5 separate regions of the Homo sapiens genome follow, and all the other regions are linked to region 1. The links come from fine-mapping of genetic effects on gene expression. A gene starts in region 1. Each other region holds a variant in brackets. All regions are shown on one strand. Distances are from middle to middle. Region 1 holds the start of FAM177A1 (family with sequence similarity 177 member A1). Region 2 overlaps PRORP (protein only RNase P catalytic subunit). Region 3 overlaps PPP2R3C (protein phosphatase 2 regulatory subunit B''gamma). Region 4 overlaps SRP54-AS1 (SRP54 antisense RNA 1). Region 5 has its middle 2.9 kb from the start of CFL2.

Region 1 (5,104 bases):
ATATATATGTAGCTATGTTAAAACCCTAAGAATGTCTTGTTTATTTGATGAACATTCCTGGTTATCAAATTTTATTCAGATTTATTTTCCCAGCCTTACGCAGAAATGGTTCAATCCAAATTTACCTTTTTAGCTCTATATGTATCATTAAATGATAAATTTAGACCACATTATGTTTTCAAGTAGATAAATTATCATAATACTTGAATTTATTTTTGTCATAGTGCTACGATACAATTTATGTTACAAAGTGAAAGAAGGAAAAATTTGGCACATTGCCTTGGTGCCTACTTTTGGTTGAGCTATAACAGTTTGGAAATAATGACAAAAATATAAATGTCCAAAATAAAACCATTAGAATTTCTATGCTTTTATGTTGCTTTGAGTTGTTGATTTGTTTTGTTTTTGTTTTTTTGAGACGGAGTCTCGCTCTGTCGCCCAGGCTGGAGTGCAGTGGCGCGGTCTCGGCTCACTGCAAGCTCCGCCTCCCGGGTTCACGCCATTCTCCTGCCCCAGCCTCCCGAGTAGCTGGGACTACAGGCGCCCGCCACCACGCCCGGCTAATTTTTTGTATTTTATAGTAGAGACGGGGTTTCACCGTGTTAGCCAGGATGGTCTCGATCTCCTGACCTCGTGATCCACCCGCCTCCGCCTCCCAAAGTGCTGGGATTACAGGCGTGAGCCACCGTGCCCAGCCCGAGTTGTTGATTTGTAATAAACTGCTCTTCAATTGGATATTTGTGTTAAAAATAACTTTTTAGGAAATACTTCCAGTTCACGTTAGAATGTAACTTGTACTTTGAATTTTCAGTAAACTAAGAAATACACATGTAAACTGTGAAAATATATTCTGCTTCGGCAATGAAAATTGTAATTTGAGGCCAGGCGTGGTGGCTCACGCCTGTAATCCCAGCACTTTGGGAGGCTGAGGTGGGTGGATCATCTGAGGTCGGAAGTTCGATACTAGCCTGGCCAACATGGTGAAACCCCGTCTCTACTAACAATACAAAAATTAGCCGGGCGTGGTAGTGCACAACTGTAATCCCAGCTACTTGGCAGGCTGAGGTGGGGGAATCGCTTGAACCCGGGAGGCGGATGTTGCAGTGCGCCAAGATTGCGCCATTGCACTCCAGCGTGGGTGAGACCCCATCTCAAAAAAAAAAAAAAAGAAAAAAAAGAAAAAGAAAATTGTAATTTGATATTTAATTGCCACTTTGGAAAATAAAATCATGCATTTATAAATATCCCACAAAGTTTTAGTAATAAAGATTGTTGATTGCCCTGCTTGCCAGTAAGAAGGAAGAGATTTTGAATACATATAATGCAGAACTGTGTTGTTTATGAATGCCAATTCATGAAGTCTTAACAATTGGTTCTTTATTTTTGTTTTCAATTTATGGCCGAGTTTGGTTTTGCTGTTTTGGACTGTCTCAACTCCCTGCTGATGCCACCATACAGAGTCAGATCAGGTACTAACTTGTTTACTTCAGCAGCAACCTAACTTGATTTTATTACCAGGATAGAGAGCAATATGGATTTCCAACTAGTTTTTAAGGCGTAGATGGTTTTCAAATGATTATTTGTTTTTTAAAGTTTTTGGTTTTGTTTTTAGGTTCCAGTTATACATAGAATAGGAAGTGTACAATAACATTAGGCAGAGGGTAAGGAGAAGAACTTTGGCACAGAAGAGAAAGGAATATTTAATATTTGGGCCTGCTGTTGCTATGATGAAAAACATTTACAAGGTCATACAACTTTAGGGAGCATTTCTGAATTGAGACTAGTATGAAAATGGAATTTAAAGTATCAAATGAAGCCTCCCATAGCCAAAATAATGTATGTTTTGGTTTTGCCCCCTACATATTTGTGAAAACTTTCATGCTAAAACAACAATATACCATTTACCTGCAGAACCTCAGACTTGTTTGATGTTGAAGTCATGCAGTAATTGCATGATTTTTTACTTTCGTTGAACATTGCGAAAGACGGAAAAAATCTGGGACGCCCCCTCTAACATACGCACACGACTTTAAGACACAGATAAAACATTCCTTACATTTGTCAAGATGGAAGCTTACTACTGCCCTTTGCTCTCCTTCAGGTCTTTTCACTTAACACTTTCTACAGTTATACTTAAGTATTTCAGACAAGAGTAAGCAAATATCACGCCTGGGGTTCTTCTTTCGAGGGTATTTTGGCTGGACTGTCACCCACGTTTGGAATGGAAAGTGCAGCACGAGCCGTACATTTTACATTTTTCAGCAACCACATCCCATCACTAGCCTTTGAAGTACAACGACACAGCTGTCTTCATTTTACAAGTGCAAAAACCGAGGTCCTGCGGGGTGACTGCCCCAGACGCCGCTGGTGACGGGCTGCGCCGAGGTCGAGACGCCAGGCTTCAGGTACACGTACCAGAAATGACGTCACAGGCGGTGCCAGGCGGGGATCCACGAGCTCTGGATGCTTGCTTGGCCGGAAGCGACGCCCCGCAAGGACCCGCCCCGCCCCGCCCCGCCCCGCGCGAGCCGGTAGTTGCGCCTCCCAGACTGCAGTTGGCCAGCTCTCGGGGTGCGGAGCCCGGCGGGCTAGGCGAGGCGCGGGCTGGCCCCGCCCCTCAGGCCGGCGAGTCCCCTTCTCAGAGACTTGGCTAGGCGCGGCGCGAGGCGGGCGCTGGGCGGGTGAGTCCCACTTCCCGACAGCCTGGCTCGGCCAGCGACTGGGCGGGGAGACCAAGGATGGAAGTGGGCTTACCGGCCATTACCCTCTTTCTCACCAGCGCCAGCAGCCCTGTGGTGGCGACGACGATGGACCAGGAGCCAGTGGGCGGTGTGGAACGAGGAGAAGCCGTCGCAGCCTCGGGAGCTGCGGCCGCCGCGGCATTCGGGGAATCTGCAGGGCAGGTAGGTGGGGCCGCCGAGGCTGACGTCCGGGGAGCCGAGCCGCCTCCTTGCCTTCTCCGCGGGCCGCTCTTTTAGCCTGCGCGGCCGTCCTCCGAGCAGGCCGCCCCAGCTTTGGAGTTCCTCCTCACTGCACCCCTGTTTCTGCTCACTGAGACCAGCTTGTGGGAAGGAGCGCCCCCCGCCTCACTCACCAACCCCTTGGCTGGCAGCACAGCAGACTCTGGGGCGGCCTCGGGTTCCTGGGGTGATAGTCCAGCTTCTGGTCTACCAGAGGAAGAAGAAAGGCGTGTCCCCCAAAGGCTGTCCTTGCAGTAGCTGGAAGCCAGGTGAGGGCGGCTTCAACCACTTCTCAGTCTCTTCTGGTGCGAGCGCCTGCCTGGGCATCTGCCCTTTGCTTGGCATATGCCAAACGTTTACCAGCTTTAATTCACTGGATCCTTACAGTAACCGCTCGAGGTGGGTGTTAGCCCCATTTCACCGCCGAGGCAACTAAGGCTCCGAGCTGCGCTGTCCAACATAAATAGAATGCAAGCTGCATTGAAAATTGTAATTTAAAATTTTCCAGTAGGCACGTTTTAAAAAAGTGAAACCGATATTAATTTTAATAGCATATCTTATTTAACCTAATTTATCAAAACAATTTCAACCTAAAATTACTATGAAAGTTATTAATGAAGTATTTGCATTCTCTTTTGGAGTCTTTTCTAAGTCTTTTAAATCCTGGGTGCATTTTACACGCATAGCATATCGCAGTTCTGGCTGACCACATTTCAAGTGCGCATTAGCCACATGTGGCTAGTGGTTACTGTATTGGACAGCGCTGGTTTAGAGAGTTAACGTTTCTTGCAACTTTTCAGTATTAGACAAAAAGACACTTTGGGAGGCCAAGGCGGGTGGATCACCTGAGGTCAGGAGTTCAAGACCAGTCTGGCCAACATGGTGAAACCCCTTCTCTACTAAAAATACAAAAATTAGCTGGGCGTGGTGGCGCTCGCCTGTAGTCCCAGCTACTCGGGAGGCTGAGGCAGGAGAATTGCTTGAACCCTGGAGGTGGAGGTTGCAGTGAGCCGAGATCACGCCACTGCACTCCAGGCTGGAGACAGAGCGAGACTCCGTCTCAAAACAGCAACAACAACAACAACAACAACAACAACAAAAAAAAAACCCTTGAGTTGCTCATGTATGTAACTCTTCCCATCCTCCATGAGAATGAAGCTTTTTCAGTAGCTTCATTTTTGAGACTAAGTACCTGAATGTTAGTAAGACATTTCCCCCAAACTGTGAGTATATCTCTGTGTATCTCTTATAGTATAAGATGTCGTTTGCATTAACAAAAGCTTATCCAGCCTGGGCAACAGAGCAAGAACCCATCTCTTAAATAAAAAACTAAAGAAACCCCAAAAACAAAAAACACAACTTTCCCACATACCAAACTCTATATGGAATACGTTTTTTCCCTCCTACTTAAGAAGGGGATTCAGGGGACAACATGAATTGATAAGGAAGCCACGTCATTTTCAGTTGAGTTGAGACCTATTGTTGGCAAGTGCACTTACACTTAACCTTTGAGTCCATGGTGCTTGATATGTTTTTCAATTTGATTTTTCCTGTTGTTACTAGAATTGTTTTTTTAAAATCACTACCTCCGCCCTGGATCTAATAGCAAAGTAAACACACGTGTACTTATATACCAGCTAAATGTTGTTTGAAGTGAGAGGCTCTTTGATTGGGGTTAGTGATATTCTGTTGTTTTCACATTCTTGGTTAACAAATAAGTACTTAACCAGTAAAGAAGGCTGTAGAACAAAAGATAAAAATTCACAGGAATACCCCACCACCACCCTTTCTTCATGTTCTCATTCCCCAAAGGTAACTATTAAGTTTTGGTGTAGTCTCTCTGGAATTTTATCATTCAATATTATATATTTCTTATATATTATATATATTATTAAATATTAAATATCTCTTCTTTCTTGTTAAACACCAATGAGTTCCATTTTCTGATTTGCCCTTTGTGCTTTCAGATTCACATTCCTGAATCAGAAACATCTTTGGGAACTCCAGTTCTATGCCCAGGGGGTTGAGCACAGTAACAGGGAAGTGGACATCTCAGGAGATGGAGAGGCCTCTATCTTACACTTCTTCCCAAGTTTGGCAGAACTGAGAAATCCCTAGTGCAATGTAGGGAAAGGGAGTAAGAG
Region 2 (5,104 bases), 90 kb after region 1:
TGTTTGTACCTTTCCTTCCTGAGAAGGCTTTCCAGATACTTAAAAGGACTTGGGTGTTGTGATCTAAGTTGTATGTGCTTTAGGGGGCAGCCAAAGCCCAGTAATGCTGTGGTAAGAGGTACTGCCTTCATGGCCTTGAACAAGATCAGGGAGAATTCTCTGGATTACTAGGCAGAAGCTCTTGTTCTCTTCCCTTACTTTTTCCTAAACAAACAGTCTCTCCCTCTCATTCTGAGCCACCTGGAGCTGAGGACGTAGTCACACAAATACCCTTGTGGCCACCACCACTAGAACTGTGCTGGGCCAGACCTGAAGCCAGCAGAGCACTGGATCTTGCCCAAAGCCTGCTTAACTACTCCCTGGCTACTGTCTGTGTTCACTCAAGGCCCTGGGGCACTACAATCAGCAGTTGGTAAAGCCAGCCAGGCCTGTGTTCTTCCCTTCAGGGCGACAAGTTCCCCCAGGCCTCAGCAGGTCCAGAAGTGCCATTTGGGAGCCAGGGAGTAGAGTCAAAAATCTTAGAAGTCTACCTGGTGTTCTGTTGTATTGTGGCTGAGCTGGCATTCAAATGATAAGACACAGTTCTTCCCACTCTTCCCTCCCGTTTCCAAAAGCAGAGGAGCCCCACCGTGTGGCCACCGCCACCACCAGCCCACAGGGAGTTCTGCCAGGCTCCCACTGATGTTCTCATAAGGCCGAAAGGCTCTTCAGTCAGCTTGTGGTGCATGCTGCCTGGCCTGGGACTCACCCTTAGTGCTCTACCCACCTCTGGCTGAGGTGGTACCTGAAGCTAGCAATATCAGAGTCTCACTCAAGGCCCATGATGTACTACCTGGATATTGCTGCTGCTTATTCAGGGCCCAAGGGCTCTTCAGTTAGCAGGTGATGAATCCTTCCATGATTGGGTTCTTCCCTTCAAGGCAGTGAGTTCCCTTCTGGCTCAGAGTGTGTCTAGAAATGTCCAGGAGCTAGGGCCTAGAAAAGGGGGTGTCTCATGACTCTGACCGGTACCCCATCCTGCTGTAGCTGAGCTGGTGTCCAAGATGCAAGACAAAGTCCTCCCCACTCTTCCATCTCTTCTCAAGTAGAAGGAGTGGGTCTGTTTAGGAGACTGTGAGATGTGCGGCCTGGGCTTAGGGGAGGTATGGCACCAGTACTCCCCTAGCTATCGTCTCAGTAGGTCACATGCCCCTACCAGTCCACTGGCTCTGAGCCCAGTTCACCACTAGGACTCACCTAAGAGTTGCAATCCTTGTGGCTTAGACTGCCTTTCAAATTTATTTACGGGCCTGGAGCACTTTGGCCCATGGTGGTGAGGCTTGTGGGAACTCCAGTTTCAACCACTGGGATGGGCAATTTCCCTCTGGCTAGAGCTAGTTTAAATGCCCCTTCTGTGGGTGGGTATCAGCTGAGTTTGTTCTATTTTTGCTTTCTGCTATAACAGGGCAGCACTGAGTTCAATGCAGTGTCTCACAATTGCTGCACTCTCCCTCTCCCAAACACTCAGAGTCTTTCTCTGCACCACATTGCTGCTGCAGGGGGATGGGAGAGGAATGGCAGTGGTGATTCAAGACTGTTTTTCCTACCTCTTCAGTGCCTCTTTCAGTGATACAAAGTTAAAACCAGGTACTGTGAGTCCTCACCTGATTTTTGGTTCTTTTGAAGGTGCTTTTTTTACATGTGTAGATAGTTGTTAAATTGGTGTCCTTGCAAGTGGACGATCAGTGGAGCCTTTTATTCTGCCTTCTTGCTCCACCCCTTCTCCTCTGTCTATGGTACTTTTGTCCTGCAGAGTTGAGTAGATATAAAGGAGAACATGTGGCCTACAGAGCCTGAAATATTTACCATTTGGCCCTTAACAGAAAAAAATTGCTGATCCCTGGTATCAATGAATATCATAAACCTCTGGAGAAGTAATGAGTGTGAAGGAGCAGTGGCATCCAGGAGAGGGCCTCTCCTTTCTCATTGGTTGGTCCTATAGCATACTATAGGATAATGAGCAGCTATTATTAAGAAACATTGTCATAGGTTCTGGGGAGCCATTAACGTGTTTTAAGCAGGCCGGGCATAGTGGCTTATGCCTGTAATCCCAGCACTTTGGGTGGCCGAGGCGGGCAGATCATGAAGTCAGGAGTTTGAGACCAGCCTGGGCAATATGGGAAAACCCCGTCTCTACTAAAAATACAAAAATTAGCTGGTCGTGGTGGCGTGCACCTGTAGTCCCAGCTACTAAGGAGGCTGAGGCAGAAGAATCGCTGGAACCTGGGAGGCGGAGGTTGCAGTGAGCTGAGATCATGCCACTGCACTCCAGCCTGGGCGTCAGAGCAAGACTCTGTCTCAAAAAAAAAAAAAAAAAGTGTTTTAAGCAAAA[G/A]TATGATATGTATATTTTAGAGAGACCTCTCTGGCAGCTGGTTGGAAAAAGGAGTTGAAAAGGATAAGATTGAGGCACTGGAGTTGAGTCAGACGGCTGCTGAGTGGTCCAGGTGTGGGATGATGAGGGAAATGAAAGCCAGAATAAGGGTAGAGAAGGACCAGCTCAGCTTTGAGAACATTTTAGGAGATAAAAATTTCACCATTTGGTTTGGCTGCAGTGATGGGAGAAGACAGGATGATGTTCAGGTTTTCGGCTTGGGTGATGGGGTGAACAAACTCTCACTCCCTAATTCCTTTTCTTTTGTCACCCTGGAAAGATGCCATCTACCAAGAACAGGTATGAGGAGAAGATAATTGAATATCCGACAACGGGTTTTTTTGTTTTTTTGGTTTTTTTTTTGAAACAGAGTTTCGCTGTTGTTGCCCAGGCTGGAGTGCAATGGCGCAATCTCTGCTTACCGCAACCTCCGCCTCTCGGGTTTAAGCAATTCTCCTGTCTCAGCCGCCTGAGTAGCTGGGATTACAGGCATGCACCACCACACCCGGCTAATTTTGTATTTTTAGTAGAGACGGGGGTTTCTCCATATTGGTGAGGCTGGTCTCGAACTCCCAGCCTCAGGTGATCCACCCACCTCGGCCTCCCAAAGTGCTGGGATTACAGGTGTGAGCCACCGCACCTGGCCCATATTGGGTTTTAATGTCAGCAGAAGATCCAGGACTTGGGTTCCAGCTTACAGGGGAGAGTTAATGCTGGAGGTTTGGGGACCATCACATAATAGTAATAGGTTAAATGCGAAGAGTGCCTGAGCTCATCCAGGAAAACAGTGAGAACAGTAGTGGGCTCAATTCACAACTTGGTGGGGGTGGGATGGGGAACACCAGCATAGGAAGGAAGGTCAGAGAAGAAGTTTCATATATTAGATAGAACAGTCAGAACAAGGCAGAAAGAATCTATTCAGTACAGTGTCACAAATATCAAAACAGAGTGCAATACACTAGAGATTTGTTAAGGTGTGGACTGAAGGGATACATTGGATTTGGCAACTAAGAAATCATTGATGACCTTGGGAAGAACAGTTTCAGTAGTTTAATGGGGGCCAAATTCAGCCAGGTTATAGCAGCTGAGTGAATACCCATTGAGTGTAAACTCTAATTTTAAGAAGTTTACATGAAAATTAGAAAGATGATATAGTGGTGGCTAGAGGATGGTGGAGTCAAGGGAGGGTTTAGAGAGATAGGCTTGTGCCTGTTTGGAGGATGAAGAAAAGGTATCAATAGAGATAAAAAATATTGAGTATACAGGATATGTAGGAGAGAAAAAGGAATATTGCTGAGTAAAAGTAGCAGGGGTTGCCAAAAAGAGCACAAATGTGGAGGTTGGAAATGAAGGAAATATCATTTGAGGCTGTAGAAAAGAAAGTGAAGATGGGTGTGGATGATAAATTGGTAGAAAGAGGGAACATTGAGAGAAATGATACCTGCTGTGTTAAGTGGTATACAAGATGAGAGAGATGAGAGTCAAGTAGAGTACTAGAGAGAGTGGGGAAGGTTTGGAATGGTTCTTGAGGGGATGTCAAGATGCTAACTCAAGGCAGAAGGATTATGGCAGAGGGTGGGTGCTGAGGTTTGAATCTGTGAATCTGTAGACATTACTCTGTGTGATTGTGTGATTTAATATATTTCCAACAGAGCTTGGCTCACCAAGAGCAGAGGTAGTAAAGACAAAGGGTAGCGTTGGTCCAGAGTTTGGGTTTTGTTGGTTAGATGTGGCACATGATAGAGAGCAAGAGAAGGCGATTCTGACAAAGTAGTTAACATGGTCTGCATGGGGTCCAGGCCAGATAGGAAAGGGAGGAAGGCCAAAGAGCACTATATGAGAGGATTCCAGGGACTGGTTGTCTCTTCGTGCATGTACATGTGTGTGTTGGTTTTGTTTTGGTTGGTTGGTTGTTTTTTTTCCTCACCATTTGTATTAATTTGCTAAAGCTGCTATTGCAAATACCACAAACCAGGTGGCTTTAACAGCAGAAATTCATTTTCTCACCATTCTGGATTCTAGAAGTCCAAGATCAAGGTGTTGTCAGCTTTGGTTTCTCTTGATCCCTCTCTCTTTGGCTTGCCGATGGCTACCTTCTTGTGGTATCTTCACATGGCCTTCCTCTGGTGTATTCCTGGTATCATCTTTGTATGTACAAATTTCCTCTTATAAGGACACCCATCAGATTTGATTAGGGCCCATCCTTATGACCTTATTTTACCTTAATTACCTCTTTAAAGGCCTATCTCCAAATACAGTCACATTCTGAAATACTATGGGCTGAGACTTCAACATATGAATTTGGTGAGTGGACACAAGTCAGTCCGTAATACCGTTCATTGTAAATATGCGTTAATAAAACTATATTATATTCAGCATTTTAAATTATTTTGTGTTAGGAACATTAGAAACATCTAGTTGACAAATAGCTGGATCTGCCTTCAATGTTGCTTTCTAAAGCTTGCTTATAATTTGAGAATATGAGGTATAAACCAAGGAATAATTATTAAAGGAATAAATTATTAAATAATTATTAAATTATTAAATCTACTTAAAAAAATTTTGCCAACTGACCTCCATAAACACCTAAAATGAGCATTATAAAAGTTATTTTAGGCTTATATGTTTTCCCCAAATAGTACTGTTGTTCAAAACAAAGTAAATTAGATGACACCCTCTAATGTAGCGGCTTTC
Region 3 (5,104 bases), 50 kb after region 1:
GCAGATTGTGATCTGACTTCATCCATAGTTGTAGCCTGATTTTCTCTATTCATCAGGAATCATTATATTAATAATATAAGCTCCTCACTGTCTATTGTTTACAGCTGTGGGAGTTACAAAGTAAATTTTCTGTGCCTTTTCCCCTCTTTTCTTTTGTTGTTACTAATGGTGTTATTTAGCAAACTGCTATTGAAGCTAAATGATAAATGTAAGACCCCCCCATTCTCATGACAATATGACTATTTTTTAAGCATAACTGGTTTGGGAAATTTATCAGATTCTTTTTTTTTTTGAGATGGAGTCTCGCTCAGTTGCCCAGGCTGGAGTGCAGTGGCGCCATCTCGGCTTACTGCAAGCTCCGCCTCCCGGGTTCACACCATTACACCATTCTGCCTCAGCCTCTGGAGTAGCTGGGACTACAGGTGCCCGTCACCGCACCCAGCTAATTTTTTGTATTTTTAGTAGAGACGGGGTTTCACCGTGTTAGCCAGGATGGTCTCCATCTCCTGACCTTGTGATCCACCCGCCTCGGCCTCCCAAAGTTATCAGATTCTTAACCCATGTTTTTAGCAGCAAAAATGGTGATTTTAAAATGCTGTTTAGAATTTTCCTTCTCAAGTATTTTGCATTGTTATAATAAAAAGACAAGTGCATGTTATCTTCAGCTGTTCATATAGCCACTTCTAGAGACTAATACAACCTGATTCTCAGAATTAAATCATGGCATATGTGTTACTACATTTGACCTGGTAATTTAATGACGGAACTATCTAGCTGAAAATAGCCAGAATAATTTACTAATGTTTCAGCTTTTAAGAGACATGGTCTCACTCTACTGCCCAGACTGGAGTGCAGTGGCCTCATCATAGCTCACTGCAGCCTCAAATTCCTCAGGTCAAGCAATCCTCCTGCCTCAGCCTCCCGAGTAGCTATACTACAGGCACATTCCATCCATGCCCAAGTAATTTTTTTATTTTTTGTAGAGACAGTCTCGCTGTATTGCTCAGGCTAGTTTTGAACGACTGGCCTTAAGTGGTTCTGTGGCCTTGGCCTCCCAAAGCGCTGGGATTATAACCATAAGCTACCAAGCCTGGCCTCAGCTTTTTTTTAAAAAAAAAAAAAAACTAGAATGCACTACTGTACAGTAGGTGCACTGACAATGAAATGAACAATAAGCTTTTCTATTTGCCCTGAGGCCATAATGCAGATGTTTTAATTTACGTTAAGACCAAAGACTCTGAATCTCAAGTAATTTGATCAGTTTACACATTTTAAAGACACTGTTACACAGTGATATCAATAATGCTGGGCCGAGTGTGGTGGCTCACGCCTCGTAATCCCAGCACTTTGGGAGGCAGATCACCTGAGGTCAGGAGTTCAAGACCAGCCTGGCCAACCTGGTGAAACCCCATCTCTCCTAAAAGTACAAAAATTAGCTGGATGCAGTGGCATGCACCCATAATCCCAGCTACTCCGGAGGCTGAGGCAGGAGAATCACTTGAACCTAGGAAGTGGAGGTTGCATTGAGCGGAGATCACACCACTGCACTCTAGCCTAGGCGACAGAGCAAGACTCTGTCTCAAAAAAAAAAGGGCTGTATTACATCAAGAAAAGGGTTTGTGGAAACTCTGGGAGCCTAAACTTTTAAAACTTAGCAGCAGATTTAAACTACTACCATTTCTCCATCATAAGTGAGACACTCCTGGAAAACACGGTCTAAGAAGACATTGGTCATGGTAGCTGTTCCATAGCGTGAGAGTTCTTCTTTACTGAGCATGCCATTGTGATCTTTATCAAGATTCAAGTACTGGCCTTGGGAAGAAAAATAATAAAGACACTTATGACCACAATAAAATTTTAATCAGAAGAATAGACTAACAAAAAGTTTTTTCTTGGTTAATATTTTGATTTTCAAACTATTCATGTTATGATTAGGGTAGTGGCCTATGTGTAATACTATCAGCTACCTTTGCAATCTTGATCAGAAAAACCCTTGGGCTAGAAACAGCCAAAAAAACCCATCATGAAGGCCATAGTCTCTGGGCTGTTTCACTTACATCATTATTTGTTTTCAGTTTGCAGTCTTTTTAAACATTCCTAGGTTTCTAAATTAAATGGAGGTAGAGGCCAACAAAAAGCACTGAAATGCTAGCACTTGAAAGTAGAGATAAGAATGCCAAAAGGAGGTCGGGCGTGGTGGCTCACGCCGGTAATCCCAGCACTTTGGGAGGCTGAGGAGGGCAGATCAGAGGTCAGGAGTTCCAGACCAGCCTGGCCAACATAGTGAAACACCGTCTCTACTAAAAAA[A/C]AAAACAAAAAAAAAAAACATTAGCCGGGTGTGGTGGCGAGCGCCTGTAATCCCAGGTACTTGGGAGGCTGAGGCAAGGAGAATCACTTGAACCTGGGAGGTGGAGGTTGCAGTGAGCCGAGATCATGCCACTGGACTCCAGCCCAGGTAACAGTGCAAGACTCTATCTCCAAAAAAAAAAAAAAAAAAAAAAGCCAAAGGAGTCAAAAGACCACCCAACAAGATAATGTAGATTAGCTCCATCAGTAGACCCTGGGAATAGCATTTTATCAACAAAGCATGACAATAGCTAATGTTCATAATGATGCTCCTGAGTCAACAAGGATCAAATTACATTCTGTTCTATTGAAAAGGAAGTGTATAACTTAAAAAGGGTTCTGCTGGGTGCAGTGCCTCATGCCTATAATCCCAACACTTTGGGAGGTCAGGGCAGGTGGACTGCTTGAGCCCAGGAGTTTGAAACCAGCCTGGGCAACACAGTGAGATCCCATCTCTAAAAAAACATAAAATAAATTAGCCAGGCATGGCGCCTGTAGACCCAGTACTGGGGGTGGTGGGGTGGGTGGGGTAGGGGCACTGAGGTGAGAGGATTGAGCCTAGGACTTCAAGGCTGCACTGAGCCGTGATCATGTCACTGCACTCCAGCCAGTGTGACAGAGTGAGACCCTGTCTTCAAAAAGAAAAGGTTGGGGGGAGTCCAAAAAGTTAAAACATCGGTATTTAAACAAGTAAATTTTGGTAATGTAGAATACTAAAGCTTAAGGTAATTAAATATTTTGATCTTAAGGTATATCAGTGTATGTATAAAACTGTCCTCTGAACACCAATTTCCTGAAGAATGGATAATTCAAATTTTAGCATTATGATAGGAACATACCATAAACTCTTAGGGCAGAAGGAGCAGAAAACCAATTTGTTTCTTGACTCTCCTTGGACAGTTCCTCATCCCTTAGCTAATGGAACACAAAGACATAATTAGAAGATAGCAACTGTCAAGTGATACAATTAAGTAGTTTAAAAACATTTACCTCCAATAAATCATCTAGGAAGCTGCATGCTAAAATATCTTGAATTTTTATCTTTCCTTTAAGAACATAAAGAAACACAATTAATTTCATTTTAAGAAAAGAGCAACTCAATTAATTAAAAAAAAATTTTTTTAACAAGAGCAATCACACAATTGATATTTTAAAGCTTCTAGCTCTTATGCTCCAAAGTCCTTATTACATATTGCTACAAAAAGGGAAATCTCGGCTGGGCGCGGTGGCTCACCGCGTAATTCCAGCACTTTGGGAAGCTGAGGCAGGTGGATCACCTGAGGTCAGGAGTTCCAGACCAGCCTGGCCAACATGGTGAAACCCCATCTCTACTAAAAACACAAAAAATTAGCTGGGTGTGGTGGAGGGCGCCTGTAATCCCAGCTACTCTGGAGGCTGAGGCAGGAGAATCGCTTGAACCTGGGAGGCAGAGGTTGCAGTGAGCTGAGATCAAGCCATTGTACTACAGCCTAGGGAACAAGAGCAAAACTCCATCCCCACCCTGCAAAAAAAAAAGAGAAACCTACAGGCAACATTTAATAACATCTCTACTTGTATACCTCAACTATATAAATCTAAGTGGTAAATTCTAAAATTATACTGATGTCAGATTTTCAAAAAAGTTGTGATTATAGATATAGTACTGCTGGTACACGAACAGGGACACTGTCTCCATTTATTTTTGGCAGGTTCTGGACTAGAAAGCAATACGCAGGTAAACAGGTGTGGTTTAAGAGCAGAGTTTGTTTTGTCTTGTTCTTGTTCTTTTTTTTTTTTTTTTTGAGACAGAGTTTCGCTCTTGTTGCCCAGGCTGGAGTGCAATGGTGTGATTTCAGCTCACTGCAATCTCTGCCTCCTGGGTTCAAGCGATTCTCCTGCCTCAGCCTCCTAAGTAGCTGGGAATACAGGCACCCACCACCACATCCAGCTAATTTTTTCTATTTTTAGTAGAGATGGGGTTTCACTATGTTGGCCAGGCTGGTCTTGAACACCTGACCTCAGATGATTCACCCATCTTAGCCTCCCAACGTGCTGGGATTACAGGTGTGAGCCACTGCGCCTGGCTGCTGCTGCTTTTTTGTACAGAAGAGGTCTGTCTTGCCAGGGCTGGTCTTGAACTCCTAGGCACCAGTGATTTCTCACCTCAGCCTCCCAAAGTGCTGGGATTACAGGTGTGAGCCACCACACCTAGCCCAGATTGGAGTTTGAATGCCACTTTTAAATATGTAACCTAGCAAAGTCTCAGTTGCCTTACACATAAAATGTGGACAATAATGTACCTTCCTTATGGGGTTATGAGATGAAAATGAATGAATCCATGTAAAATGCTTAGCATACTACATAAGTCAAAACGTGATATTATTTTGTAAAATTTGAAAAAGTATATATGTGTGTACTTATAGTAGAGGAGTTCAAAAAACACTGTCAGCTACCATATGCTGTGATTGGATTCATAACTGGATTTTTTTTTTTTTTTTTTGGACACAAGGTCTGGCTCTGTTGCCCAGACTGAAGTGCAGTGGCCCGATCTTGGCTCACTGCAGCCTCTGCCTCCTGGGTTCAAGTGATCCACTTCAGCAGCTTCCCAAGTAGCTGGGACTACAGCCGTGTGTCACTACGCCTGGCTAGTTTTTTTTTTTTTTTTTTTTTTTGAGACGGAATTTCCCTCTTGTTGCCCAGGCTGGAATGCAATAACGCGATCTCGGCTCACCTCTGCCTCCCGGGTTCAAGCAATTCTCCTGCCTCAGCCTCTCGAGTA
Region 4 (5,104 bases), 96 kb before region 1:
TTTTCACTAATCCATAATCTATATTTAATTTATTCCTAAAAGGTTATATTGGGCATTTTTTCCTCATCTCCCTCAAAGAAAGTAGAAATTTGAGAATACCAATTAGTGTTAGAGAACTTAACAGCTGGATGATCATTGTTGTTGGCAAAGAGCAACTTGAAGTTGAATGCTCTTCGAAATGAGGATCCTTGATACAAATACGATTACTTTATCTATCTATGTGGTTGGGACATTTCTTCTGATAAACAGATCAGTTCCAATTTGTATTCTATTTATGTGCATTTCCATATGTGTGTCTGAAGGACTGTTTATCATTCTCGATGTACATAATACTCTTGTGAAATTCATGGTCAGAAAAGATGAATTAACTTATTTTACAAGTGGATAAAACGGCAGCCTAAAGTGGTTGAGTTGCTTAAAGCATTAAGCAATACCCCAGGTTCCAAGGCCTGCCTAAACAACACTGTATCTAAGGAAAAAGTTACTTTTAAAGTAGGTATCTGGGCAGGCATGGTGGCTTAGGCCTGTAATCCCAGCACTTTAGGAAGCTGAGGCAGGTGGATCATTTGAACCCAGGAGCTTGAGATGAGCCTGGAAAACATGGTGAAACCGTCTCTACCAAAAAATACAAAAATTAGCTGGGTGTGGTGGTGGGTGCCTATAGTCCCAACTACTTGGGAGGCTGAGGTGGGAGGGTCACCTGAGCCTGAAAGGTTGAGGCCACAGTGAGCTGAGATCATGCCACTGCACTCCAGCCTGGGTGACAGAGTGAGACCATGTCTTAAAAAAAAAAAAAAAAAAATTAAGCCAGGAGTGGTGCCTCATACTTGTAATCTCAGCATTTTGGGAGGCAAAGGCAGGTGGATTGCTGGAGCTCAGGAGTTTGAGACCAGCCTGGGCAATATGGTGAAACCCTGTCCCTACAAAAAATTAGCCAGGCATGGTGGTGCACAGCTGTAGTCCCAAGTACTTGGGGGACTGAGGTGGAAAGACTGCTTGGGCCTGGGAGGTTGAGGCTGCAATGAGTTGAGATCACACCACTGCACTCCATCCTAGGAGACAAAGCTAGACCCTGTCTCAAAAAAAAATTAAAAATAAAGTACGTATCTTTTACTATACTAGCATGTCGCCAGTGAAACCCTTATGTTTGTCTTCTTTTCCGCAGCAAGATTCTTTTTTTTGAGATGGACTTTCGCTCTTGTTGCCCAGGCTGGCGTGCAATGGCACGATCTCGGCTCACTGCAACCTCTGCCTTCTGGGTTCAAGTGATTCCCCTGCCTCCGCTTCCTGAGTAGCTGGGATTACATCCATGTGCCATCACACCTGGCTAATTTTGTATTTTTATTAGAGACGGGGTTTCTTCGTGTCAGTCAGGCTGGTCTAGAACTCCCAACCTTAGGTGATCCACCCACTTTGGCCTCCCAAAGTGCTGGGATTACAAGCATGAGCCACAGCACCCAGCTCCCCAGCTAGATTCTTATTTACAATGTTTAGAACTTTATTTTATGCCCTACCCTAATCCTTGTCTTCAATGCAGTTATCCTTGTGTATCTTATATGTGTGTTTCACCCTTGGCAGGTTCCCATTCAAGCTATTGTTTTAATGTTTGCCTCCTGGCATTCTTTTTTGGCCATGTACTTAGTATTTAACTATTTTTTATTTTGTTAGCGTATGATTCCATGCAGCAGATTTCTTGCTATTATCTTTTGACTTAATGGATTTGCTGTAATGCCTCACTGATTTTCTCAAATCTCTTCGTAAATGTAATTATTAAAACTACTCACTTCCAGATTTATCTACTCCCCACAAAGTGCTAGGCCCTCCTAAATACTTCATGATTCCTTCTTTCTCCCTTCATTCCCAGTGTTGATGCCTTAGTTCATTACTACTGGGTTTGCTGGACCACTCCAGTGGCTGACTTATTTTCTTTGCTGTTGTTTTGCCCTTTTATTTTGTTTTTGAGACAGAATCTTGCTCTTGTCGCACAGGCTGGAGTGCAATGGCACGATCTCGGCTCACTGCAACCTCTGCCTCCCGGGTTCAAGCAATTCTTCTGCCTCAAGCCTCCTGAGTAGCTGAGATTACAGGTGCCCGTCACCATGCCCGGCTGGTCCAGAACTCCTGACCTTGTGATCTGCACTCCTTGGCCTCCCAAAGTGCTGGGATTACAGGTGTGAGCCACCACACCCGACCATGTTTTACCCTTTTAATCCATCCTAAATAACGTCTTCAGAATTACGTTTCTATACTTTTATTCTGACTGTATCAGTATGCTAATGCATCTTGGAATGGCTCCCCCTTTCAGAATACAATGTGATCTCCTTTGTTTGCGACACCATGTCCTTCCCGATCTGGCATTCGTCTACTTTACCAACCTCATGTAATCCTAGCCTGGACCCTGGTCATACTAAAATACTCTCCTCTATGCCCCCGCATATGGCATTCCCTCTACCAGCGACATCTTTCCTTACCCTGTATCTAAATGAAAGAAGCGCCTCTCTCCTTAGACTGTGAGTTCCTTCAGAGTGGACCCAAGTGTTCCATGTTTGTATCCAGAGTCTGGCAGAGTGCTGGATAAACAGTGGACGCTTAGTACATGTTTGTAAAATTAGTGCAATTAATAGTTGAATGGCTGTGGAATTCACCATCAACAAAAAATACCTTATAATGTCTACTAATGATGAAGTTTTCATCAAATTTTGGAATGTTTAAGCTGTTGTATCCCAAAATGGGACGAGGCTGGGACATCTGGGGCATCTGCATTACTAGACAGCACTGGAGGTTGGGTGAGGGAATAAGGTGACAAAAAAAATGAAGAAGCTGTATGAAGTTAATTTTCAAAATTATTTTTATTTTATTTACTTTTGTTTTT[A/AT]TTTTTTTTTTTGAGACAGAGTCTTGCACTTTCGCCCAGGCTGGAGTGCAGTGGCGTGATCTCAGCTCACTGCAAGCTCCACCTCCTGGGTTCATGCCATTCTCCTGCCTCAGCCTCCCGAGTAGCTGGGACTACAGGCGCCCGCCACCACGCCCGGCTAATTTTCTGTATTTTTAGTAGAGACGGGGTTTCACCGTGTTAGCCAGGATGGTCTCGATCTCCTGACCCCGTGGATCCGCCCGCCTCGGCCTCCCAAAGTGCTGGGATTACAGGTGTGAGTCACAGCGCCTGGCCGGTTTTTTTTTTTTTTTGAGACAGAGTTTCAGTCTGTCACCCAGGCTGGAGTGCAGTGGCGTAATCTCAGCTCACTGCAACCTCTGCCTCCCGGGTTCAAGCGATTCTCGCGCTTCAGCCTCCTGAGTAGCTGGGTCTACAGGTGCGTGCCACTATGCCCAGCTAATTTTTTGTATTTTTAGTAGAGATGGGGTTTCACTATGTTGGCCACACAGGTCTTGACCTCCTGGCCCCAAGTGATCTGTCTTGGCTTTCCAAAGTGCTGGGATTACAGCCATGAACCACTGCACCCAGCCCTGTATGAAGTTTAATAATTTAAAAAAATCATTGGCTGAAAAAAGTTCCAGAGTTCTAATACGTTTATTTTCTATCAATTTAATTTTTATCAAATCAATGTAAAATGGTAAAGAGCTAAATAATTAGGACATTTACTGTAATCTTAATGTTTTTGTTTGAGTACCAGCAATGCTATATGAAAAACTGGTTTTGTTTTGTGTATTTTTCATTTGGCTGATGAAATATGAAACTATCTTAACTCTATTTTTCTCCTTCCCCACAAACCTTCTGAGATGCATTGCATAACACTGGAGGATAGAGAGGGAGGTTGAGGTCAAGCTAAGGAATGACAAATTGTGGGAAGTATAAAGCTTCCAACACTAAAAATTCTCCTAAAGTAAGAAACTAGCATTTTTTTTTTTTTTTTTGAGACACAGTCTCACTCTATTGCCCAGGTTGGAGTGCAGTGGTGCAGCTTCCTGGGCTTAAGTGATCCTCCCACCTCAGCCTCCCACGTAGCTGGGACTACAGGCATGCACCACCACACTCCTGGTCAGGAGTTCGAGACCAGCCTGGCCAACATGGTGAAACCCCATCTCTACTAAAAATCCAAAAAAATCAGCTGGGTGTGGTGACGCACACCTGTAGTCCCAGCTACTAAGGAGGCTGAGGCAGGAGAATCGCTTGTACCCGGGAGGTTGAGGTTACAGTGAGCCAAGATTACGCTACTGCACTCCAGCATGGGCTACAGAGGGAGACCTCATGCCACACGCACAAATAATAATAATAAAAATAAATAAAATAAAATGACAGTTAGTTGTCTCTAGGCAAATATATAGACATTTAAAAACTAAGTTGAATAACTCCACATACAGAATATTGAAGGTGGTGGTAGTAATGTCTCCTTGGTATCCTACAGTTTGAATATTTACCTCATATTTATTAAAAAATGTGTTAAGCATATAAAGTGATCTCCACTTAGCCATGGTTTTTCTTTCCGTAGTTTCAATTACCTGTGGTCAACTGTAATCTGAAAACAGCACACAAAAATTTCCGGAAATAAAAAACTCCTAGGTTTTAAACTGCATGCCATTCTGAGTAGCATGATGAAATTTCACGCCATCTTGCTCTGTATCCCAGAAGTGAATTATCTCTTTATCCAGGGGATCCACACTTGTCTCCACTACCCACCTGTTAGTCACTTAGTAGCGTCTTCTTTGTCAGATCAAGCCCTTTGTCTCCTTATCGAAGGGCTGGTGGTAAAGTAAGGCTTATTTCTCGTTCTTTTTTGTTTGTTTTTTAAATTTTCTTTTTTTTTAATTTTCATTTTTTTGTTTGCTTTTCAAGTAATGCTTATTTTACTTAAGAATGGCCCCAAAGCACAGAGTAGTGATGCTGGCAAGTTAGATATGCCAGAGAAGCCATGAAGTGCTTCCTTGATTTGGGGGCCGAGGCAGGTGGATCACCTGAAGTCAGGACAGAGTGAGACCCCTGAAGTCAGGAGTTCGAGACCAGTCTGGCCAACATGGTGAAACCCCATCTCTACTAAAAATACAAAAATTAGCCAGGCATGGTGGCGGCACGCCTGTAATTCCAGTTACTCGGAAGGCTAAGGCAGGAGAATTGCTTGAATCTGGGAGGCGGAGGTTGCAGTGAGCCAAG
Region 5 (5,104 bases), 330 kb before region 1:
TTCCACCGCCTCCGTAGGGCCCTGCGCCAGGGGTGGGTGCGTGTGAGGGGAACTCCTGCGAAGGTGTCTTTCCTTATTTACCTGTGGTTTTCCCGAAAGAGGCTGGATTTCGACATTTTGAGTCTTTTTGGAAAACCCCCAGTTGTTTAGAGATAAATGAGAATAAATACTACACGAGATTGCTCCAGTTGATAGTACTTAGCAAAAACAAAATGATACGCAGTGTTGGTAAATCACTTTTCAAAACTCTGGTTGAAATAATAATTATGATTAAAAAATTACGTGGTAGCATTCCTTAGTAATATCCTTTTACATTTTAGACTTCATAGGAAATGGATTGTACTCTCTCTTAGAGATTTCATGAAGCTCCAGCTATGACAGCTGATATCAAATAAGCCGACGCAGCCTCTTCTAGCAAAGCCCATATAACTGCGCCAAGGCAGTTTCTCTTTTTTTAATCTTAACTCCTCCATACCTCAGGGTTCTTCATGTGTAAAACAAACTGTTATTAAATTATCGTTAAGGCCCTTTCCAGCTTTAGATTTCAGTTTCTGAGTATATCAATGTTCAGTAGGAAATGGTGTGTTTTTGGTGGTCTCAGGATTGAGGTTAGGCAGGAAAGTCATGAGATGGTGTTTGCCCTAGATTGCGTGATAAGTTCTTTCAGCCCAAATTTACTGTATTTTAAATGGAACATGCTAGGCATTGAAACAGACCTATTTTTCTGTCTATATCTTGGGTTTGTTTTCTTAATTGGAAGATAGACTTCGTTTAGAGACAAAAATTGAGAAGGGATTTCCCAATGTCTAAGCATGAATCCCAAGCAAGTGGATAATACTTTATATCTAGCTGGTACATTACAATTTATGGAACCTTTCACTTTATCTGTTGAACTTCCAAGAAGTCATGGAGAATGTCTCTCCAGAGCTCTGATCATCTGCTATGTGTAGGTATTAGCAAATTCCTGTTCGCTTCATCTTGCGGTTACCTTCCCTTCCCAACCTCAGAGATTTGCAGCAGCCCCAGCAGAGACCAGGTCTGATGACACTGGGGCCTAAAGTGGGTGTCAGAACCTTACCCACCAAAGCTGGGGATTCCAAAGATGCTAGTCACCCCCTAGCTCGGACTCCAACCCCTTTCCATGCCTCCCATTCTCTCTTACCCTCCCCAAACAGAGATGGTAATTCACATGTTCTAAGATTCTTTTCCTGAAGTTATTTTTGTCTTGCATATATTTTGTTACATTATAATAACTTGTTTATGTCTTCTGCCACCCTACTGCGCTGTAAGCTCCTTAAGGATCTGAGTCCTGGTTATCTTTGAATTTCTGGAACCTGACAGATAGTAGGTGCTTAATAGGTGCTGAAATAATACATTTAAGATGCTTTAGTGCTGTAAAGAGAATGAAAAGGAAGCTTCTGAAAATTGTGAAGCCTTTCTACATGCCCTTGTGAGCATGGCACTGAGAATGTCAGGGCCAGTAGCAGCTTCCTGCCTTCACCTCTGTGAGTTATAACCAGAACTTACCACCACTTGGTAAAGGGGCAGCATTGCCAATCATTGCTGCATGAATTTTGGTCACTGTGTAGTGGAGGGGGATCTGAGTGTCAGATACCACATGTATTAGCGTTCGACTGTTGCTATAACAAATTACCATAAAATTACTTGTTTAAAACAACACAAATTTATTATTTATGGTCTTACAGAGTCAGAGAAACAAGTCTCTCTCTCTATATATATATATTTAAGAGATAGTCTCTGGTTCTGTTGCCCACCCAGGTTGCTGGAGTGCAGGATGTGATCATAGCTCACTGCAGCCTCATACTCCTGGCCTCAAGTGAGCCTCCTGCCTCAGCCTCCCGAGTAGTTGGGATTACAGGCATGAACCACCACAACTAGCAGAAATAAGCCTGATGGGGCTAAAGTCAAGAGACTGTAGTGGGAGACTCCTTTGCCTTTTCCAACATCTAGAGGCTGCCCATCATTTTTTTTTTTTTTTTTTGAGATGGAGTCTCACTCTGTCACCCAGGCTGGAGTGCAGTGGTGCTATCTCGGCTCACTGCAAACTCCGCCTCCTGGGTTCACACCATTCTCCTGCCTTAGCCTCCTGAGTAGCTGGGACTACAGGCACCCGCCACCATGCCCGGCTAATTTTTTGTATTTTTAGTAGAGATGGGGTTTCACCGTGTTAGCGAGGATGGTCTTGATCTCCTGACCTTGTGATCCGCCCACCTTGGCCTCCCAAAGTGCTG[G/A]GATTACAGGTGCGAGCCACCACACTCGACCTGCCCATCATCTTTGGCCTGTGGCCCCAGGCAGCAGTCGCATCACTCTGACCTCTGCCTCAGTCATCACATTTCCTCTGACTCTCTCTCTCCTGCCTCCGTCTTCCACTTATAAGGACCATTATGGTTACTTTGGACCCCACTTGGTAGTTTAGGATAATTCCCCCTCTCAAGATCCTTAACTTAATCACATCTGCAAAGTCTGTTTTTTCGTACAAGTTAACATTCAAAGACTTTGGAGGTTAGGACAGGAACACCTTTGTGAGGAGGGGTTGCATTATTCTGCCTACCATACAACTGTTCTGAGCAATTTCAAGCTCAAGCAAACAATTAATAGGTGTGACAGAGGGACCCCGAACAATGTGGTACTAGATACTTTTGTGCTGTAAACATCTAAGCTATAATTATCCATTTACTAGACCACACATAGATGGCAGTGACAACTATTAGGAACTTAGTGAGAGTAACCTCTGAATGTAATCTCAGCTCAGACACTAGTAGCGGTGCAATTTCAGGCCATTGATTTAGCTGCCATAAGGCTCAGTTTCCAAATCATGTGTAAAATAGGGATTATATGACCTCTTCCCTCTCAGGATTATGGGGAGGATCAAGAGAGATAATGTATGTAAAGCCCTTGTCCAGCACAGAAATAGGAACCCTGGAGCTGTTATTACCACCAGCAGAGTGAAGATGAAGGCACTGATTTTATCAACTCATAGGCAATAGCGTGAAGCCGTCCCAATCCTCATTGATTCTGAAGACTCAGCTAAAGTTTGTTTACTCAGGATTCTTTAAAAAATTGGAAAGGTGATCATCCCTTAATATATATAATCTATTCCCCCAAGAAACAATCTATTATGTATATATTTACTTACTCACTTACAGAGATGGGGGTCTTACTATGTTGCCCAGGCTGGTCTCAACTTCTGGGCTCAAGCAGTCCTCCCGCCTTGGCCTCCTAAAGTGCTGGAATTACAGGCATGAGCCACCACACCTGAGAAACAATGTGGATGGAGGTTCTGTGGCATGTAAAAGTTTGAAAGAACTATCTAAAACAGTGAATCTGGAAGATTATGCAGACAAACTGTGTGTAAGCCCTACTCCCTGTCAAGAGACATCACATTCTCAGCTCCCACAGCCACTTCCTGACAAAGACAAATGTAAGCATAAAGACACTACCACTTCAAAATGTACCTTTCTACCGACATGCCTTCCTAACTCTGACATATCCTTCCTAACCCACGCCTGAGCTAAAGGACTGATGAGGGGCCGGGCGCAGTGGCTCACGCCTGTAATCCCAGCACTTTGGGAGGCTGAGGCGGGCGGATCATGAGGTCAGGAGATCGAGACCATCCTGGCTAACACGGTGAAACCCCGTCTCTACTAAAAATACAAAAAGTTAGCCGGGCGTGGTGGCGGGCGCCTGTAGTCCCAGCTACTCAGGAGGCTGAGGCAGGAGAATGGCGTGAACCCGGGAGGTGGAGCTTGCAGTGAGCCGAGATTGCACCACTGCACTCCAGCCTGGGCGACAAGTGAGACTCATCTCAAAAAAAAAAAAAAAAAAGACTGATGAGGAGTCAAGTCGTATATTTTTCTAAATCCAAGTTTGAATTTAGAACTAGAAAATAAATACAGTAGGAGGTGTTTTTTTGGAGTCTGATCTCTGTGACTCACTCTCATCCACAAACTCACTTTGGGTCTTACATATGCCATCTCTGGTTCTTTCTAATTTAGGAGAATGACCTCACAATAAAGGAATTTATCAGTAATCTGTGTCACATGAAGTGGTAATGAAGAGGTAGCAGTATTGAAATGCAATAATTAGTGAAATGTAGTTCAAAATGGTCTCAAACTATAATTACCAACTTCAATGGTGTAAAACATACCAGCTTCAACTTATTAACTCAGACACAATTTATCAGATTCACCCGCCAGTTATTTGTAAAACCTCAATCACAATGTTAATTAATAATGCATTGATAGTAATTGAATTGTGATAGTAAATAGCAACTGGTTACCTAAATTATACAAACCATATAAAACGTCATCTGAGAAAAGAAACTTGCTAGTAATTTATTAAACACTCCTTTGTTTAACTTACTTTATTACAAAAGCAGTAGATTTTGGCCGGGCGTGATGGCTCATGCCTGTTATCCTAGCACTTTGGGAGACCAAGGTGGGTGGATTGCTTGAGCTCAGGAGTTCAAGACCAGCCTGGGCAACACGGTGAGACCCCATCTCTACAAAAAATAAAAAAAATCAGGCGGGTGTAGTGGCACATGCCTATAGTTCCAGCTACTTGGGAGGGCTGAGGCAGGAGGATGGCTTGAACCCAGGAGGTGGAGGCTACAGTGAGCTGAGACTGAGCCACTGCACTCCAGCCTGGGCGACAGAGTGAGACTTTCTTAAAAAAACAAAACAAAACAAAACACAGTAGATTTTATTTTTGTTTTTATTTTTTAAATTTACTTATTTATTTATTTGAGACAGGGTCTCACCATCATCCAGGCTGGAGTGCAGTGGCACGATCATGGCTCACTGCAGGCTTGACCTCCCTGGGCTTAGGTGATGCTCCCACCTCAGTCTCCTGAGTAGCTGGGACTACAGGCATGTGCTACTACGCCCAGCTAATTTTCATATTTTTTGTAGAGATGAAGTCTCCCTATGTTGCCTAGGCTGGTCTTGAACTCCTGGGCTCAACAGATCCTCCTGCCTCAGCCTCCCCAAGTGCTTGGATTACAGGCATGAGCCACTACACCTAGCCAAAAGCTGTAGATTTTAAAACCATAGGCTAATCATACAGACATGAAAAATGTAACATA

What was found. PIP is the estimated chance that this variant, and not a neighbour inherited with it, causes the effect.
Region 2: its variant is fine-mapped to the expression of FAM177A1 in whole blood (TOPMed, PIP 0.98).
Region 3: its variant is fine-mapped to the expression of FAM177A1 in activated CD8 T cells (Schmiedel 2018, PIP 0.95).
Region 4: its variant is fine-mapped to the expression of FAM177A1 in monocytes (BLUEPRINT, PIP 0.91).
Region 5: its variant is fine-mapped to the expression of FAM177A1 in whole blood (INTERVAL, PIP 0.93).

The regions. Positions count from the first base shown.
Region 1 is chr14:35,043,726-35,048,829 of GRCh38, forward strand. It overlaps FAM177A1 (family with sequence similarity 177 member A1), which reads left to right and starts at 2,547. Exons shown (of 5, transcript NM_173607.5): 1 at 2,547-2,903. The coding sequence starts at 2,739. RefSeq lists enhancers at 2,067-2,266, 2,987-3,256, 3,357-3,416 and a silencer at 2,387-2,736.
Region 2 is chr14:35,133,619-35,138,722 of GRCh38, forward strand. All of the region lies in intron 4 of PRORP (protein only RNase P catalytic subunit), which reads left to right. All of the region lies in intron 4 of PRORP-PSMA6 (PRORP-PSMA6 readthrough), which reads left to right. Among named protein-coding and RNA genes, the nearest start is that of PRORP, 14 kb to the left of the region's middle. The variant G/A (reference allele first, on the strand shown) is at 2,372.
Region 3 is chr14:35,093,373-35,098,476 of GRCh38, forward strand. PPP2R3C (protein phosphatase 2 regulatory subunit B''gamma) reads right to left here. Exons shown (of 13, transcript NM_017917.4): 8 at 3,337-3,392; 9 at 3,186-3,261; 10 at 1,676-1,812. All of the region lies in intron 1 of LOC101927178 (a long non-coding RNA gene), which reads left to right. Among named protein-coding and RNA genes, the nearest start is that of PRORP-PSMA6, 26 kb to the right of the region's middle. The variant A/C (reference allele first, on the strand shown) is at 2,309.
Region 4 is chr14:34,947,726-34,952,829 of GRCh38, forward strand. All of the region lies in intron 2 of SRP54-AS1 (SRP54 antisense RNA 1), which reads right to left. Among named protein-coding and RNA genes, the nearest start is that of SRP54-AS1, 32 kb to the right of the region's middle. The variant A/AT (reference allele first, on the strand shown) is at 2,873.
Region 5 is chr14:34,714,950-34,720,053 of GRCh38, forward strand. No RefSeq gene overlaps it. Among named protein-coding and RNA genes, the nearest start is that of CFL2, 2.9 kb to the left of the region's middle. RefSeq lists a silencer at 1-80. The variant G/A (reference allele first, on the strand shown) is at 2,253.